Linked DNA regions of Homo sapiens. The protein of the gene in region 1 interacts with the protein of each later gene in a pairwise test. Each region holds a gene or a part of one and is shown on either strand. Other genes may lie near its edges.

Region 1 (6,172 bases):
ACTTGTTGAACCTGAGGAGGTAGTAGAAATGTCACACATGCCAGGAGACTTATTTAATTTATATCTTCACCAAAACTACATAGACTTCTTCATGGAAATTGATGATATTGTGAGAGCCAGTGAATTTCTAAGTTTTGCAGGTATCCTCAGTGGTGACTGGAATACACGCTCTTTACTCAGGAAATATAGGACATCTATAGCTACAAGAGGTGTGATACATTCCAACAAAGCCGGAGGATATGCTCATTGCCAAGGAGAAGGATCAAGTTTTTGACCCTCGCACACACCGCAGTGGTTTCTAATACATAAAAAGTATGGGGAAAATTGCCTGGCAGCAAAAGCACTTTTTCCTGACTTCTGCCTACCAGCTTTATGCCTCCAAACTCAGCTACTGCCATACCTTGCTCTAATAACCATTCCAATGAGAAATCAAGCTCAGATTTCTCTTATCCAAGATATTGGAAGGCTCCCTCTGAAGCAACACTTCGGAAGACTGAAAATGGAAGCCCTGACTGACAGGGAACATGGAATGATCGACCCTGACAGTGGAGATGAAGCCCAGCTTAACGGAGGACATTCTGCAGAGGAATCTCTGGGTGAACCCGCACAGGACACAGAGCTGGAAACCTGGTCTCTTCCTCTGAGTCAGAATAGTGCCAGTGAACTGCCTGCCAGCCAGCCTCAGCTCTTTTCAGCCCAAGGAGACGTGGAAGAAAATATAATAATAGAAGACTATGAGAGTGATGGGACATAGAAGCCAGCCTGCTAATCAGATTGCTACTTCACAGATTCATTTTTGTTTCATTCAGTGGTACTTCAGCAGAGTTAATATACTTCTCTGATGAATTACACAACAGTTTGTTAATTCTCCGTTCCTGTAGTCTTTCATCACGAAAAACTAACTCTTCTGTCACCTTGAAGTAAATAGAAGATCAAGCTTTCAAGTAATCTCTGAATGTTTTTCTGTAGGATTTATTAAATCTATGAGTGGTTTAAGGAGAGGTCAGTGTGTATAAAGTGTGTTTGAACATTATGCCAAATATCAAAATGTGAAGGACTAATTCAGAATGCAAAAACTTTATGGGGGGCTGTAAATATGAACTATACAAGAGTTTAGGATGCAATTATGGGTGTAAAGAAACTGCGTGCCTTAAAAAAAAAGCATGTTTAGCAAATAAGTGTACAAATGTAAATGTTTAGGAACAATCTAAACACAAGAGATTGGAAACAATTTAAATATCCATCTTTGGGGAGACTAATAAGATAAAATATTAATATAATAGAATATAATATAAAAGAACAGTGGCATATCTAAGATTTATATTTTAAAAGCAAAATGTAGATACTTGTGTGCTAGTATTTTTGTTTTTTAAAAAGAAATACATACACATAAATGTGAACATGCATCTGGGTATATACAATATATAAACATATTCATATAGATTTTCAGTTATATGACCTGAAAACCTCTGGGAGAAAATATAAGAAAAAGTAATACAGCATAGTTATAGAAGTTAGCAGTAGGAGGAAGAATTTTTATCTTTTTAACTTTTTATGGTTAAAATCAAAATGACCCCCCAAAAATGTATGAAATAGGGAACTCCCACTCAGGTTGTTTGTATATTCTGCAACGTGCAAGAATGAAAGGATGTGAAAATAGCCAAATATTAACAGCTTTTTTGTAAAAACTTTTTAAAAAACTAAATGTAAAAGTCTTTGACTTTCCTGAAATCTTATACTAAGTGTTCATTGGAAATGAATACATTGTTCATAATAACCCTTTATCTCTGGATACAGAATTGATTTTCTCTAACTGCACTATAGAGTACATAAGAATTACCTAATAAGTTTGTTAAGCTACAGATTCCTGAAACCACCCCTAACCCCAGAGATTCTGATTGAGTGGGTCTGGGATGAAGCCTTTGGTTTTTTGTTTGTTTGTCTGTTTGAGACAGAGTCTCGCTCTGTCACCCAGGCTGGAGTGCAGTGGCGCCATCTCGGCTCACCGCAACCTCACCTCCTGGGTTCAAGCGATTCTCATGTCTCAGCCTCCAGAGCAGCTGGGACTACAGGCTCACACCACTGTGCCCAGCTAATTTTGGAATGGAGGCTTTCCTGATTTGGGAACGGAGCCTTTGAATTTAAATTCCTAATAAGCTACCTAGTGATACTGATACTATCAGTTCTGAGGCCACAAATAGAGTAACACTGCTATTGACTATAGTGCTATGATTTGTAAATCTGAGATTACTACTGTAAGCCTTATTGAAGCTAATAAAATTTTAAATCTAACTCTACTGTATATTTTGACCCAAAGTTAATCATTTGACTTAATTCCATACTTTCTTTGTTTAGTAAGAAGCCATTAATGGTTATTCATCACCTGGAGGATTGTCAATACTCTCAAGGTAATTTTAGCCCCTGATATCTTATTATAATATATAATATTTCCAATATAAAATAGGAAAAGTGACCTGGTAATAATAGCTAAGAAGGCGCTCAGCAAATCCCATTAAAAAAAATAGACAACTGCCAGAGTACCATCATTTTACTAAGGTGCTTAAAGACCACAATGATTGTTACCAATCTACTGAATATTTCTATTATATTCCCTTGGGAATTACATATTCCTCTTCTTCCCATGAAAAGAAAGGGGTGAGCTGAGAAGGTGTAGAAACACTGAAAAAAAGTCGTTGTCTTAACCAATGAGTCAATGAGTTACATAAAATTATAAAAACTAGTGTCTTCACTGTGATTATCCTTTGATGTCTCCTTGAACAGACTGTCCCTCATTGCTTTCCAATGAGGGACAAAGTGGCAATAGGCCAATGAACTATTAATATTTACACCTGAGTTATATATGCAAACAAATGCTAAATATTAGCTTTATTTTGCTATGTTACATTAAAGGTCTCTTGATCCTTAAAACTAACTGGCAATTTTGTTTTCCCCTATAGCACTAAAGAAAGTATTTGCCCAAAATGAAGAAATACAAGAAATGGCTCAGAATAAGTTCATCATGCTAAACCTTATGGTACATAAACTTTGTGATGTTTTCTTAATACTATAATTTCATGGAAATTTTGAATCCGTTTTTTTCTTTTTTTTTTTTTTTTTTAGACAGAGTCTCGCTCTGTCACCCAGGCTGGAGTGCAGTGGCGTAATCTGGGCTCACAGCAACCTCAGCCTCCCTGGTTCAAGCAGTTCTCCTGTCTCAGCCTCCCAAGTAGCTGGGACTACAGGCACCTGCCACCATGCCCAGCTAATTTTTGTATTTTTAGTAGAGACAGGGTTTCACCTTGTTGGTTAGGCTGGTCTCAAACTCCTGACCTCAGGTGATCCACCCGCCTCAGCCTCCCAAAGTGCTGGGATTACAGGCATGAGCCACCATGCCCAGCCTCCTTTTTTTCTATTTTTAAAGCACAAAGAGCTAAATATTGGTTAATACAGAAAGTTGTATGGAATTATAAAAGGCCAAAATAGAATTTACTGACAGTCACACAAAATCATCTTGAAACTATCAAAAACAAATGAATCCAATAACATTCTTTTTTTTTCTTCTCCTGCTAGCATGAAACCACTGATAAGAATTTATCACCTGATGGGCAATATGTGCCTAGAATCATGTTTGTAGGTATGTATGTGATCTCATTTCATCAGATCTACAAAATTAGTAGAAATCAGCATTCTTGCTTTTATTTTTAAATGCTAGTTCAAGTACTATTCTTTTTAAAGAGAAGTCATTTCTAATCCAATAATATCAGCTCTTGTTAGTTCTACAATCAAAATCCACTATATCTGTAATTTGAAAATTTTAAATATTTTTTCAAAGCATGTATGCTATTAAATCTATATCCCAATGTACTTTCAACACAGTGCCCCAGACTAGATTGACAGAGACCTATGACACACTAAAAGGAGAATTCAGGTTAATTCATGAACTGACATGTATGAAAACTAATTTTGCTTATAAATTGGTTTGACATTTGTTTTAGATTATAAATTGGTTTGACATTTGTTTTAGATTAAGAAACAAAAATGATTTTAAGAACGTTTTATGGATGTAGCCAGAGGCCATTATCCTAAGCAAATGAACACAGAAACAGAAAACCAAATAGTGAATGTTCACACATATAAATATGAGCTAAACACTGGTTACACATGGACATAAAGAGAGGAAAAATAGACAATAGGAACTCCAAAACGGGGGAAGGAGGGAGGGAGCCAAAGGATGAAAAACTAACTGTTGGCTACTATGTTCACTATTAGGGTGTTGGGTTCAGCTGAAGCCCAAACTTCAGCATCACACAATATATCTGTGTAACAAACTTGTACACATAACCCCCACATATAAAATAATAATTAAGTTTTTACAAGAGTAAAGAAAAGAACATGCTAAATTATACTTTCGTGACTTGGTTTTTTCCTTGACAGACCCTTCTTTAACAGTTAGAGCTGACATAGCTGGAAGATACTCTAACAGATTGTACACATATGAGCCTCGGGATTTACCCCTATGTAAGTATTCACAAATGATCTCAAACAGTGGTCATAGCTGACCCCTGACTATTTGTTAAGGGCTAGTGAAGCCCTACATCAGTGCTTCTACACACCAGTCACTGAGGCTAGTGGTGGTGTTTAAATGCCAACTTCTAGCTCCCACCAAAATCAGAATTTTGGGGGTACCTCAGAATCTATTTTAACAGGGATGTCTAAGGGATTTTAGGATTACTAAATTCTGAGCTCACTAAAAAGAATATAGTACACATTAAAATGACACAAACTTGAGACAGTCCATTCTCCTAGTATCAAAGATCTCATGTGATTTCATCAAATGATAGTAAAATCATTTCATCTTTCTTTAATGCCTATAAGCAAGGAGGTACAGTCTTACCTAGGACTTTAATCCTTTTTTTTTCTTTTTTGTAGAGACAGGGTCTTGGTATGTTGCCCAGGCTGGTCTCAAACTCCTGGCCTCAAGTGATCCTCCCACCTCAGCCTCCCAAAATGCTGGGATTACAAGCATGACCTACCATGCCTGGCCAAATCTATTTTTTACAACATTCATTATCAACTATATTTAATAAGACAACTGTGCCTGTAAGATCTAGCAATACTAATACAAAGTGATGCATTAAAAAAAAAGAGGTACTCCTCAAAACCCCTCTGATGAAATTGTTCAACATAAAGTTGACCAACCAGCTCTCAATGGTCTAATCCCTAAATTTACATGTACACTTTTAGCATATTCTTTAATGTCATAGACGAATTCCCATGTTCAAAGCTATTAATTTAAATGGGCCAATTTCAGGTTCTAGAGTTAATAGATCATAGCATTTGTACTTTCATTTATTAATAGCATAATATATATTAACTCTTATTTCAGTGATAGAAAACATGAAGAAAGCATTAAGACTTATTCAGTCAGAGCTATAAGAGATGATGGAAAAAAGCCTTCACTTCAAAGAAGTCAAATTTCATGAAGAAAACCTCTGGCACATTGACAAATACTAAATGTGCAAGTATATAGATTTTGTAATATTACTATTTAGTTTTTTTAATGTGTTTGCAATAGTCTTATTAAAATAAATGTTTTTTAAATCTGAGACTGACAATATAGTTTTATTTCTGCCTCATCAGTAGCAAAGAAAGCCTGCCAAGAGTTATAGTGGAGACAAGAAGACCTAAATAAGAGGTGCCTATACAGTTTGTCTCTATTTCTTCACCTCTCCTTCACTCCATCAACTAATCTAATTTTATTTTTAATTTTCTAAATTTTTTTTTTTGAGATGCAGTCTCACTATGTTGCCCAGGCTGGTCTCAAACTCCTGGGCTCAAGCAATCCTCCAACCTTGGCCTGCCAGAGTGCTGAGATTATAGGCCTGAGCCACTGTTCCTGGTCTAACCACCAACTAATCTAATTTTAATTCTGTCTCCTCCCCTGTACCATACCTGCTAACCCAGGTCATAAATGATCTCCATGTTACCAAAACAAGTGGATAAATCTCTGTCCACTTGTGACTTTAACTTTTAGCTACATATTTCAGCACTAACCACTTACTTCTTTTCTTACTTTACACTTAGACATTTAAAACCTAATTATATTTTAAAAATTCAACTACATTTATTTATTTATTTGAGACAAAGTTTTGCTCTGTTGCCCAGGCTGGAG
Region 2 (7,100 bases), on another chromosome or scaffold:
TAATTAGAATCACATTGGATTTATAGACTAATTTTGAGAAAATAGTACAGATAAATTTGCATGTTGAACCACAGAATGTTGTCACAGAAAATGTGAGTGGGGAGGAAGAAGAAAGATTATGACATTAAATGTAAGTTTATAAATTTTTATGATACTACTTTGAGAAACATTAATATAGTTTATAAGGAAAATTATATTTTAAGGGATTTTCTACAAAGGTGAAAAAAAATCACCCTATGAGTTTAAAGGATTTTAAGCTTTATATTTAATTCTTTCCTTCTTTTATTAATTTAATCTATATTTCTTCTTTTTTCCTAGGATATCCTAAACCTGAGGAAGGAATACTTGACAGTTTGGGTTGGTATAGCTATCATGACAAATATAAGTGGTAGTATGTGTAGAAACGTGTAGGTAATTAGTTTTTATGAGGTGCCCAAACATAGGATCCTTGGTAGGGTAAGATAACTTTCTTAAATGCTGTGTTTGTATGTAGGTTAAAATATATAAAACACAATTTTCTTTCCACATTATATTGTTATTTTGTGATGGTAATCTGTCGATAAATTTTCTTTCTATTCATATCTTATATACATGAACCTTAAAGCAATCTAAGTTGGGTTTATTTTTTCTGTAACACGCTGATTTAACACACTTGATGTAGGCTTACGCAGTTTACACAATGCATGTTAAAAAAAAAGATGAAGTGCAGTTGTGATATAGGCCAATGAAAAATAAAGATTTCTTAATAAGTAAAAACAAAAATCTATTACCTTTCATTTCTTAGACTAGTTTGGTAATGGTTAATCATTTTATATAATGCACCTTAGGCTTGTTTTTTAGTATTTGCCTTACCTCCAAAATCTGTGGTCCAAGTAAATCTGTTGCCATCTTAAACTGTTAAACACTTGATAACTGTTTATGAGATGAGAAGAGCAGAGTTGAACATAGCACTTTATGCTTTGACTTATAGCAATTTAATAAAAGTAATGGCAGTTTAGAAGCAAAGGTACTAGGGACAGAAACAGTTCTAAAAATTAAGATTTTATAGGATTATTTTGTGTTCTCTAGATAGTCAAAAATGTATTCTCAAATTTCTCTGTATATTTTTTATCCATGTGCCCTGGTGTTTCATTTATTATGGGAATCCTATTGGTATTTAGGACTATGTCTTAATTTTGGGGCAGGGCAGAGTATGGAAGTAGAGAGGATGGGAAGGGGATTGATAAGATAAAGTATTGTTTGTGAAGACTTTGTAAATACCATCTGGGCAATAGAATAATAGAAATTTATTTATGACTCACTCTACAGATCACTTTTGGAGGAAAAAATACAAATTAAATGTCTACCAAAATAAGAAATGACAGAATGACTGTTGAACTAAACCAACTCTCATGGGATAATACTTTTCAAAAATCATTTTCCTTTACTATAGTGAATTCTAATTACTCTAATAACTTTACCGCTAAATAACCTGATGTGGTAGCTATAGAGAAAAACAGTGAAAAATGAGGTTCCCATTAAGAGTTTCACAAGTGGAACCCTTAACCTGGAAACTGGTTAGAAGGGTTCTATGATCAAAATGACCTGGATGCCCTAGCAGTCATGCTAAAACTATATAAAAAATTTTTTTTTCCTCTGTAGTCTTGTATTAGTCCATTCTCAATGCTGTTGTAAGGAACAGTCTGAGACCGGGTAATTTATAAAGGAAAGAGATTTAACTGACTCAGTTCTGCAGGGCTGAGGAGGCCCCAGGAAACTTATAATCATGGAGGAAGGGGAAGCAAACACATTCTTCTTCACATGATGGCAGGAAGGAGAAGTATGAGAACCAAGTGAAGGAGGAAGCCGCTTATAAAACCATCAGATCTCGTGAGAACTTACTATCATGAGAATAGCATGGGGGAAACTGCCTCCATGATTCAATTACCTCTCATGGGGTCCCTCCCACAACACGTGGGGATTATGGGAATTGCGATTCAAGATGAGATTTGGGTGGGGACACAGCCAAACCATATCAAGTGTTTAGATGATCTGATTGAAATAAATGCTATCTGGAGATCCATGTGTTCAACATCTTGGAACTGTTTTCTTTCTCAGATGTTTGGGTCATTGCTGTGATTGTTATTGCCATAGGTAAGTATCACAAATTTTGACACCACTTAAGTCAAAAAATTATTGTGAAGACATGCATTTTAAAAATAGTTTTTCAGTTTCTATAGTTTTTTCAGCTTGTAAATTGGTTAAACCGATTTAGGAAAACCTGACTTTTTATTTGATATACTTAACTACCTACCTTGTGTTAGTGATTTTATACTCTGTTATATTCTGTATATCTACTTAGTAACAAAGCCTAAGTAATACATATTTTCTCAAGATGATCAGTAATATTAGTTGGCTTCCCAAATGTGCTTTTGATAGTTTTCTAAATTAAGCAAGGACTTTTCTCTGACTTACTATGGACTGTGTAAGTGATTATGGGGAGTTGGATTTAGATAGCAAAGAGTCTGGATGGAATATAAATGTGTAGGTGCTTAAATAACATTTGACCACTGAAATGTAACCAACATTTATTTCTTCTGCTAGATGTTGAATCTTGGTGATTAGTTTTCAGAATTATATGTCATTTGTTTCCTGGTTTCTTATAGTTGTTGGAGTTGCAGTAATTTGTGTTGTCCCGTACAGATATCTTCAAAGGAGGAAGAAGAAAGGGTAAATTAAAGCATGTTTCTTTTAACTTCTTGGTCCTTCTTATACTTAACATGCTTTTGTGCAGCTTCAGTTTGTAATCTGTATTGCATGCTATCTTTTTTTTTTTTTTAAAAAAATGCCTGCATTAGTTTGTCCTACCAATTGCATTTCTTTGCTAAAAATATTTTCAGCTACTTCTAACATCACTGCAACATAAAAACATCTGTGCAGAGTTCCTACAGCTATTATGACTTTAAGAAAAATTTCTTTTGGATTTGAGGTTTAAGTTATTTAGCAAATCATGGACCACTCACTATGAGGCCTTCTCTACCCTATTCCCTATTTCCAAAATTGCACTAATGGCCAAAATTAAATTTAAAGTATTTCACTGTGGAGACTTTGACAGTTGTATTCACTGGAATTTTTATAATGAAAGTTTCCACTTGTCTATATAGCTTAGCTAGTTGCAAGAAGCTATGTAGGCATATCATTTAAATACCCAATTTGGTGTCTTTTCATTTAAAGTTGTTATTTATACATGTTAAACTGGGGGATTCAAAACAACACTATCCGATTTCCCTCTTATGTTCTCTGAATTTACCAGATTGCAGTAAAACTGATAGGGTTAAAGTTAAAATTGCTGAGAGGGGTTAGATCTATAAGGTACCTCAATTAACTGTGTCTTTTAATATATAAAAATGTAAAAAGTGAGTGGGTTTAGAATAGAAGAAAAATGTACAAGTACATATCTTCTAAAGAAAATAGGGTTTTAAAACATCAAACTCAAATTTTAGTTAAAGAGCTTACAGTTTAACAAAAGACTTAGAATGAATCCTGGAACACAGACTAAGATTAGGTGCTTTGAAATTTCTGAAAGATAATATACATTCATTTTTACTGATTTTTAAAAACTGTTTTCCCCTATAGTTTTAGAAATAGCTTTGAAATCAAACCTAATAATTTTAAGACTTTTGGTACTCATGGTTTTATGATATATATTCCTTTTATACTGATCATCAGGTTTGGGCTAAGTCATAAAAGTACAAGCTTTACTCATAAGGAACTCAAACTTTTTTCATATTACTTGGTTATCTTTTGAAATACCCATAATCCCTTCACTTGAATCTTAAATCTTGTATTAATGGAACACGATATGCATATTTGATTTATCTATCAGTTGTATATTCTAAAAGTTACATATCTACAACGTGAGTACAAAATATTATCAATGGAATATTTTTACAAATCCATAAGGTTTGCGTAGAAACAAGTTCTAAAGAAAACAAAACAAAGTCGCATTCTGCTTATTTTCCTTCTTTGTTTAAAATATCACTGCATCAGAATTTTTAAAGGTTCATTAACAAGTATTAATCAAACTCTCTCTAGCTAGCAGTTAATGGTTTTTCTGTTGTTGTTTTTTGCTTTTTTGTGATGGAGTCTTGCTCTGTCACCCAGGCTGGAGTGCAATGGCGCAATCTTGGCTCGCTGCAACCTTGGCCTCCTGGGTTCAAGGGATTCTCTGCCTCAGCCTCACGAGTAGCTGGGATTACAGTCGTGCACCACCACCACCGGCTAATTTGTTGTACCTGTACTAGAGATGGGGTTTCACCATGTTGGTCAGGCTGGTCTTGAACTCCTGACCTCAGGTAATCCGCCCACCTCGGCCTCCCAAGGTGCTAGGATTACAGGCATGAGCCACCGCGCCCGGCCTTAATGGGTCTTTTAAAGCTCAACAGTTATCTGACTGTTACACTCCCAAATGAAAGGTTCAATAGCAGTAGTGAACTGAGATTCCAAAATTAATTTGTCCAGTGATTTTTTTTTAAAGCCCATATTTTACAGCATAGGGTCCAACTGACAGTTGCCATTATTAAAATTTTAAAATATTTTGGGAAGGTATGATATCTTTAGCCAATGCAACATAATTAATCCTGCAAATAGTAGCACAACTTGAGGAAAAATAGTCCAGAAAATGGTGTGAGAGACGAAACTCCTAATTGCCTTTGAACTTTAAAATATAAACTGCGTGGGAATCTTTTAGAATAGATGTTACCCTTTTTATGACAGGAACATACTCGATTGGAAATTCAGCATATGTAATGGCTGAATCCAAAGCTAGGCTCTCTTTATGGATCTATTATTTTGTAGTTCCATGTTATTTTGATAGCTGAACTGAATGTGAGGGTGGTTTATCTTTCTTCTTCAGAGTCTAGAGGAATGTTTCTCTGACTTTAATGTGCACATTAGTCACCTGGAAATCTGTTAAAGTACAGATTCTGATTCATTGGGTTTGGGGTGGAGCCTGAGACCCTGCCTGTCTAGTGAGCTCCCAGTGCTGATGCTGCTGCTGTGCCTGGGCTACACTGACCAGGGTGTTGCCCACTACTGATGTGCCTATATTGTTGAAGTCTGAAGAAACACTATGAAGCTTATTGGCAAATTTTTCTAATATTTAAGATAATTGAAGTTTTTAAGATTCCTCATCCATGTGTATCCTTAAAAAAAGGCTATGGGGTAATAAATAGTACTTGGCTTTTCTTACCTTCTTTAACTCTTAAAAAACAAAGATTTCCAGCCGGGCCTGGTGGCTCACGCCTGTAATCCCAGCACTTTGGGAGGCCGAGGCGGGCAGATCACGAGGTCAGGAGATCAAGACCATCCTGGCTAACACGGTGAAACCCCGTCTCTACTAAAAATACAAAAAAAAAAAAAAAAAAATAGTGGCGGGCGCCTGTAGTCCCAGCTACTCTGGGAGGCTGAGGCAGGAGAATGGCGTGAACCCCGGAGGCGGAGCTTGCAGTGAGCGAGATTGCGCCACTGCACTCCAGCCTGGGTGACGGAGTGAGACTCCATCTCAAAAACAAAAAACACAAAAAAACCCCAAAGATTTCCATTATTTTCTTTGCACTGTTTAATGTCCATAATCTTGTCCCCCCAGATTGGCTGTTGTGGCCTTAGAAACTTCTTATAAAGACTATAAAATGTCTGGAGGCACTTCTCCACTTCCGGGGGTAACTGGAAGCAGGCTAGCAGGCACAAATAATCTCAAATTGTTGTTAAAGCCTGGCACAAAATGTATTTCTTGTAAACTGGTATTTATGGTGATTTGGGAACGTAATTACTCTTCTGCAGCCTTCATCTCAAAATACAAAAATAGTGTAAGGAGTCATTTTAAGATCATCCAACATCATTTACATTACTTGATAAAAAGTGGGCAAAAGGTTAAAGTATTCTGCCACTTTTCTGTTTCATAGCTCTCAGCTGAGAACAGTATAGGATACCAGTGGGTCCGAAACAGGTCCCATCCACATGCTCCCTCCTTTTCCCTTCCCATTTCCTTTCTTTACTAATTCTTCTACCATACTTTTTAGTCTTGGAAGCCACAGCCCTGTCTTTGCTACTGCTTCAGTCCTGTATTGCATGGCATGACTGTGCTTCTGAACAACAGATGCCTTTTGTTTACATAAATATTTAAGTAATGGTTTTTTTTAAATGCATGATTATTTTTTAACTCTAGTTAAGCATCCCTGGATAAGTGACAGTTTGGCTAAGTTAGTGAAAGTTATTTACATAATTTATATATTTATTACCTGTGACAAATAGTTTTTCCTTTTTTCCATTAATGGTATTTATTATTTTGTATAACCTAAACTGACTTTTAATGTTACATTAATATTGACTGACCCAATTACTTTATTAAAAATAGTGGTCAGTTCAGGTAATTGGGGCATATAGTGACATGGGGCAAAAAAAGGATCAAATTAACTTAAATGTTTTTCTAGTTGGCCCTTAAATTCTTGAGCATTTAACCCTTCAAAAATTTTTGAGCAACTACAAAAATGTTTTGTAATTAGTTTAGAAAGCATCCTTACAAAATTAGATCCATCTCAGAAATATGAGACGCCATGTAATACAAAGTTTTGCAACGATGTCTCCTCAGGTTGAAAACAGATGTGCCACAGGAAGACACTTCTTAATGTAAAAGTCCAGAGACATCTGAAAATACATGATGTCATAAAGTTGATTTCTAGATAATATTACATGGATTTGATACATACTCAATGTATTCCCTCAAAATTGAGGGTGTTAGGCCGGGTTTGGTGGCTCACGCCTGTAATCCCAGCAACTTTGTGAGGCCGAGGCAGGCCGATGGCTTGAGCTCAGGAGTTTGAGATCAGCCTGGGCAACATAGTGAGATGCTGTGTCTTGAAAAAAAAAAAAAAAAAAAAAAAAAAAATCAAGAGTGCTAGAGACCGGTACCATTTCTCCCCAACAATCTGTTATTCCTTGAAAACATTTTGACATGAATCACTTCATGCAAAATGGCTTCAAAGATAAACATATTAAACAGGAATTTCCAGTCTGTTTATCTGCTGGATGATCTATATGACTTCAAAGTTCAAGTAGCTTCT

The links.
Region 2: the proteins of AGR3 (region 1) and CD46 interact in binary tests that used the Homo sapiens proteins (3 or more experiments, as listed by UniProt).

The regions. Positions count from the first base shown.
Region 1 is NC_000007.14:16,858,846-16,865,017, reverse strand, and holds the end of AGR3 (anterior gradient protein 3 precursor), read left to right. Parts: intron 1-2,355; coding exon 2,356-2,408; intron 2,409-2,957; coding exon 2,958-3,034; intron 3,035-3,570; coding exon 3,571-3,634; intron 3,635-4,434; coding exon 4,435-4,518; intron 4,519-5,386; coding exon 5,387-5,436; 3' UTR 5,437-5,606; downstream 5,607-6,172. UniProt on the Homo sapiens protein: Required for calcium-mediated regulation of ciliary beat frequency and mucociliary clearance in the airway. Might be involved in the regulation of intracellular calcium in tracheal epithelial cells.
Region 2 is NC_000001.11:207,782,974-207,790,073, forward strand, and holds part of CD46 (membrane cofactor protein isoform 3 precursor), read left to right. Parts: intron 1-318; coding exon 319-357; intron 358-2,097; coding exon 2,098-2,133; intron 2,134-2,645; coding exon 2,646-2,709; intron 2,710-7,100. UniProt on the Homo sapiens protein: Acts as a cofactor for complement factor I, a serine protease which protects autologous cells against complement-mediated injury by cleaving C3b and C4b deposited on host tissue.